2 separate regions of the Homo sapiens genome follow, and region 2 is linked to region 1. The links come from fine-mapping of genetic effects on gene expression. A gene starts in region 1. The other region holds a variant in brackets. All regions are shown on one strand. Distances are between the middles of the regions. Region 1 holds the start of DENND4C (DENN domain containing 4C). Region 2 overlaps DENND4C (DENN domain containing 4C).

Region 1 (2,909 bases):
GCGTCCGGCCCACAAGCTAAATTTTGAAGTATTAGATCCTTTCTTAAACTTTTGCTCTTCGGATTGTCAATGTCAAAGATAGTTTCCAGGGGGACCAAATTGGCCCCAAACTGTTATTAAATAAGCCTTAACTTTTATTGCTGCGCATTTCTTCTGAAATCAATTCTGACTGCTTACGTGGTTAGAAAAATAGTTTCTGCTATTGAATATAAAACTCAAATTATCCATGGCTATGCAATAAACTTCAGAAATAAATGGACAGCAGTGCATTTATGACCCAGGTATAATCTCACATTTTTATGCAAAAATACAGATTAAATAAGGAGAGTGTAATTTTCAGGAAAATGATTATTTATGTGGATACTCACCAGATATGCAGAAATCTTACCAGTTCTGATTTTGACCTGCCATGGAATCTGAAGTCATTCGCCTTTTTTTCCCCCCAGAGGTAAAAAAGTTATCTCTACTTCAAACCATTTCCTTCTTCCTAAATAACTAGTAATTGCTTTTTCATTTACTATGATAACTCAAAAACGTTGTTCAAAAATATCCTGCAAAATTTGCATTATAGAGAAACGACTCTGCAGGCGTCTGTGTCGATAATGAGGCTACACTTAGGAGGCGTGAGGGTACTGACTATGCAAATGAGCGATTTCTCCATTAGGAATTCCCATCCCCAAATCTGGGCCGAAGGAGAGACACCGAGCGCGGCCAGGGACTCACATGGTGCACTGGAGCCAAGGGGTTTCGGGAAGGGCCAGCGCGCGGGTCTCTCTAGAGCCCTCTACTCATGCGTGGGAATTCCAGATTCCTTCCCTGGGAAGGAATCTTCACGTATCTCCCGGCACTGTCCTCAGTGACCTTCAGCCACTCGGCATCACTTTCCCTGTCTTTGAAAACTCCGAGAGAAGCAGCCGCCACCTGCCTCAGGCCAAGGCAATAAACCCACATCACACCGCCAGTCTGAGCCCTGCAGGAAGGGGTGCACAGCGGCCTCCAGAGCGCTTTCTCCCCAGCTCTGTTTCTGCAGGCTCGGCCGCGCGAACGCTGAGGAGGGGATCGGAGGCCCGCAAGGCTCAGACCCCGCGCCCCGCGGGGGTCGCACAGGGGTCGGGCGGGGGAGGGGAGCGGTGGCTGCAGGGCCTCGGCCCTCCCCGGGGGAGGGGCCTGAGCACCGCACCGCCCCCCTCCTCCCTGCGTCTTCTCCCTCCCACCCCCCGCCCTTTTCCACCCGCCCCCGCAGGAGGAAAGGGAGAGGGAGGGGGAAAAGAAAGTGCTGTTTTGTGGAAAGGGGCGGAAGGCGGGGGAGAAAAAGGGAACAGAAACATGGCGGTCAGGTCTTGGGACGGCTGCGCCGCGGGCAGCTCCTAGGCGACGCGCCGCCCGCACTGTCCGACGGCTCACAGCGCGGAGGCACCCGCGCGGGCCAGCGCTCCGGCCATCGCCCCTGGCTGTAGGCGGCGCCCCTCGGAGACCCTGCCCGCGAGGCGGCGCAGGCGCAGACCGGACTGAGGCGGCGGCGGCCGCTGGAGCTAGTCCCCCGCCCTGCCCTGCCGAGCGCGCCCAGTCCGCGAATCCGGTGCTTTCTTGCCCCAGGAAGAAGCCGTGTCGGGGCTGCGCTGACAGAGGAGCAGGCAGCAGGTGAGGCTGCGGCGCGGGGCCTTTGGCGGAGGAAGCCTGCGCCGTGCCCTCGCGGGGCCTGCGCTGCAAGGCTGGGAGGGCGCGGGACAGGTAGAGCCCGGAGGGCTGAGTTCCGAGTGGCTGGCCCGCGGGGGGTCGCCGAGGAGGCGGAGAGTGGCCGCGGCTGGCGTTCGTGGCCTAGTTTCTCCGCGGTTTCCGGGGGCGGGGAGTCCCCGGATCCTGCGGGATGCAGTCGGGGAAAGGCTGCCCCTGAAGAGCCTCCCCGCGTCGCCCGCCGGGCCCATGAGAATCGTTTGCGTACAAGCGCGAGGGGTCTGGGCCCGGGGGACCGCCGGGGCGACGGCCGCTTTGGTGGGGGCCGGGGTGCGGAGGGAGCAGGATCGGGGCTTCCCAGAGGGGGTCGAGGCTGAGAGAGCGGAGAGCTAGAGCCAGGGGTGGCGGGCAGTCTCGAGAGGAGTCGGGGGACTGAGAAGTGTCGGGGACAACGGGGAGGAGGGGGACCTGGGCAGGTGTCTCTGGTGAATTGAAGACATTTCCTTCTCTGTCTTACGGTGGCCGATCCTCAGGGCTTCTTTGTCGGGGATGACTTTCTAGGAGGGCAGTATCCTTTTAACTCTGGAGTGACTAAACACAAAACCAAGGAATGAAGTCCTAAGGCTGACTCCTGTAAAGAGCTGTAACTTTTTCTGTTTTAAGAATGCTGTCACGTCTTTTTTTTTTTCCTCCCCTTTTCTGCTTGATAGACCTTTTCCCTCTCGAAGACCGTCTTTTATCTGCACTAATAAGGAATTACCCAGTTTTTAAATAGTACCGCCTCCTTCTCCCCTTATGTATGTTTGTCACACGGGAAAATTTAGGGTAGTTACCGCGGGTACTTGTGCAAATTTGAGGGAAAGTGTCATTTCCAGTAGTGAACCCTCAGCTGTCTCTTTGTGCCTCCGAGATACTGTCAAGCGTTGTAGCCTGAGAAATTGACCCACTGAGCCTGCTTAATTGTGTGCAAACCCGTGTTGAGGCGTTCTTCCTAGGCCCTAATTTACGTAGGAATAGGTTTTCCCTTCCGGTCTGTGTATAATGAGAGGGGAGAACGTTAGTGCTAAGGCGCTAAGTTCTGGATAAATACTTGATTTGATGTGATAGTGTGTATTACTCTATCAGAAATGCAGAGCGTTGTATGATTTTTCTGTGTACACGCGATAAGAGCAATATTAGTTGCAAAAGGAAGTTTTCATCTTTGAACATTAAAGGTATCCTTTATTCTTGATCAC
Region 2 (2,909 bases), 100 kb after region 1:
TTTATGGGATAGTCCCCTAAATCCTAGAGATATCCTGAGGTATTTCCTAATTTCATACAGTTCATATTTCTTTCAATGTTGTCTGAAGAGAATACTAAAGAATTTTTTTTTACTGTTACCAGCTAACAAAAGGCAAATTTCTAAAACGAGAAAATTTTGCTAACTCAGCCTCTAAATCTCATTTATAGCAGAATTTTTTTTTTCAGGCTAACTGGAAAAGAAAAGAACCATAGGATCTTAGAAAAACAAGGGCATGTATTTTTAAATATGTACTGAAGTGTCATGGAGATCGAGCTCAAAAGTAAAATTAATATACCAAGTTGGTTTTTTTTTTTTTTTTTTTTTTTTAAGATGGAGTCTCACTCTGTCATCCAGGCTGGAGTGCAGTGGCACGATTTCGGCTCACTGCAACCTCTGCCTCCCAGGTTCAAGCGATTCTCCTGCCTCAGCCTCCTGAATAGCTGGGATTACAGGCGCCCACCAACACGCCCAACTAATTTTTGTATTTTTAGTAGAGACAGGGCTTTACCATGTTGGCCAGGATGATCTCGATCTCTTGACCTTGTGATCCACCTGCCTCGGCCTCCCAAAGTGCTGGGATTATATACATGAGCTACCATGCCCAGCCCCAAGATTTTTTTATTTAGAACATAGACTAGCAAGGAATCTTCAGTGCAGAGCATAAAATGGCATTCTGATATATGTGATAGGTTCTGTAGTTTCTGGGAATATATATAGTTTGGTAAAGCTCAGCAGATGGCTGGGCACGGCAGCTCACGTCTATAATCCCAGCACTTTGGGAGGCTGAGGTGGGCAGATCACCTGAGGTCAGGAGTTCTAGACCAGTCTGGCCAACATGGTGAAACTCTGTCTCTACTAAAAATCTGCACAAAAAAATTAGCTGGGCATGGTGGTGGGTGCCTGTAATCCCAGCTACTCAGGAGGCTGAGGCAGGAGAATCACTTGAACCCGGGAGGCAGTGGTTGCGGTGAGCTGAGATCACGCCATTGCACTCCAGCCTTGGCGACAAAAGCAAGACTCTGTCTTAAAAAAAAATAACAAAGAAAACACCAAAACTCACCAGATGATTTTGATACCTAATTTTCTCTTCTACCTAAATCTGAATGAAAACCAGAACTAGAAAACATGACTATCAAACTATTAGGAAAGTTTATGTTGACTGCAAAGGAATAGGTCCTTTTTTTTTTTTTTGAGATGGAGTATCGCTCTGTCGCCAGGCTGGAGTGCAGTGGCACAATCTCAGCTCACTGCAACTTCCCACTCCCTGGTTCAAGCAATTCTCCTGCCTCAAACTCCCGAGTAGCTGGGACCACAGGCACATGCCACCATGCGCGGCTAATTTTTGTATTTTTAGTAGAGACTGGGTTTCACCATGTTGGCCAGGCTGGTCTTGATCTCCTGACCTCGTGATCCATCTGCCTTGGCCTCCCAAAGTGCTAGGATTACAGGCATAAGCCACTGCACCTGGCCAGAAACAGGTCTTTTTTAAGGAGTCTGTCAGTGAGGGAGTTAACATAGACTGTAGCTTGGGAAGACAGAGTGGAAATCTTGGCAGGAGATAGCCTAGAGCATCTTAAACTTTAGTGAAGAGAAGAGTGAGAGGAATATCACTTTTTCACCCATCAAAAATGAGTTCCTTCTTTGTAAAAGACATGAGCCATTCTATTACAAAAAGATGAATGATCTTTGCTCTTAATTTCTACTCTGTTAAGAGACACATGCTTGCTAACAAATAGATTTGGTATAGTATGAAGTATTACTGTAAATGAATGTTCAGGGGAACCATTAACACTGATAAGCAGGAAG[C/T]CACTCACAAAAGTCAACTTTGAAGTGCTTGATTTTAGGGGGTCAAGTTTTACTTAAATTCTCCTCTCCCTTTTCCTTCTCACTTCTCCCCTCACCCTAATGAATTTTAGTAAATATCATAATATTTTATTCTCTTTCTAGGAAATAAAAACAGCTCATAAATTGGCGAAGAGATGTTATACAAATCCACCACAGTGGGCCAAGTGTCTGTTTAGTCATTGTTACAGTTTATGGTTTATTTGTCTTCCGGCCTATGTTAGAGTTTCTCATCCTAAAGTCAGAGCACTTCAGCAGGCATATGATGTACTTATTAAGATGAGGAAAACAGATGTGGATCCCTTAGATGAGGCAAGTATAACAAATTGACATTGTTTCTAAGGTAAATTTTATTTTTGTACTTCTAATAAAATTTGGGTGTAAGTTGCTTTAAAGTGTGCTCAAGCATTTTCATTAAGCAGGAAAGGTAAAACTATTACTGTTTCATGGAGCTGGTGCATATTACTTGTTTATTTTTTATTTTAATTATTGATTTGTTTTTGTGACAGAGTCTCACTCTGTCACCCAGGCTGGAGTTCAGCAGTGCGTCCTTGGCTCCCTGCAACCTCTGCCTCCCGGGTTCAGACAGTTCTTGTGCCTCCCGAGTAGCTGGAATTACAGGCACATGTTACCATACCTGGCTAATTTTTTTTTTTTTTTTTTTGTATTTTTAATAGAGATGGGGTCTCACCGTGTTGGCCAGGCTGGTCTCAAACTCCTGGCCTCAAGTGATCTGCCTGCCTCAGCTTTCAGTGCTGGGATTACAGGCATGAGCCATCACATCCGGCCATGTTTGTTTATTTTTAAAGAGATGGAGTCTCACTCCTCTCTCGCCCAGGCTGGAGTGCGGTTGTGTGATCATGGCACCTGGCATATGGTTTTTCTGTTTTTGATTTTTTTTTTTTTTTTTTTTAAGGGATGGAGTCTCACTTTGTTTCCCAGGCTGGTCTTGAACTCCTGGCTCTTGAACCCCCACCTTGGCCTCCCAAAGTGCAGGGATTACAGGCATGAGCCACTGTGGCTGGCTTCATTTTATTCTTAATATA

What was found. PIP is the estimated chance that this variant, and not a neighbour inherited with it, causes the effect. A credible set is the group of variants that fine-mapping cannot tell apart.
Region 2: its variant is the best candidate, but not a certain one, in a credible set for the expression of DENND4C in whole blood (TOPMed, PIP 0.62).

The regions. Positions count from the first base shown.
Region 1 is chr9:19,229,193-19,232,101 of GRCh38, forward strand. DENND4C (DENN domain containing 4C) reads left to right here and starts at 1,501. Exons shown (of 33, transcript NM_001330640.2): 1 at 1,501-1,641. RefSeq lists enhancers at 659-908, 1,293-1,799, 1,800-2,305 and silencers at 939-1,238, 1,319-1,688, 1,909-2,048.
Region 2 is chr9:19,330,010-19,332,918 of GRCh38, forward strand. It overlaps DENND4C (DENN domain containing 4C), which reads left to right. Exons shown (of 33, transcript NM_001330640.2): 17 at 1,969-2,175. Among named protein-coding and RNA genes, the nearest start is that of RPS6, 49 kb to the right of the region's middle. The variant C/T (reference allele first, on the strand shown) is at 1,828.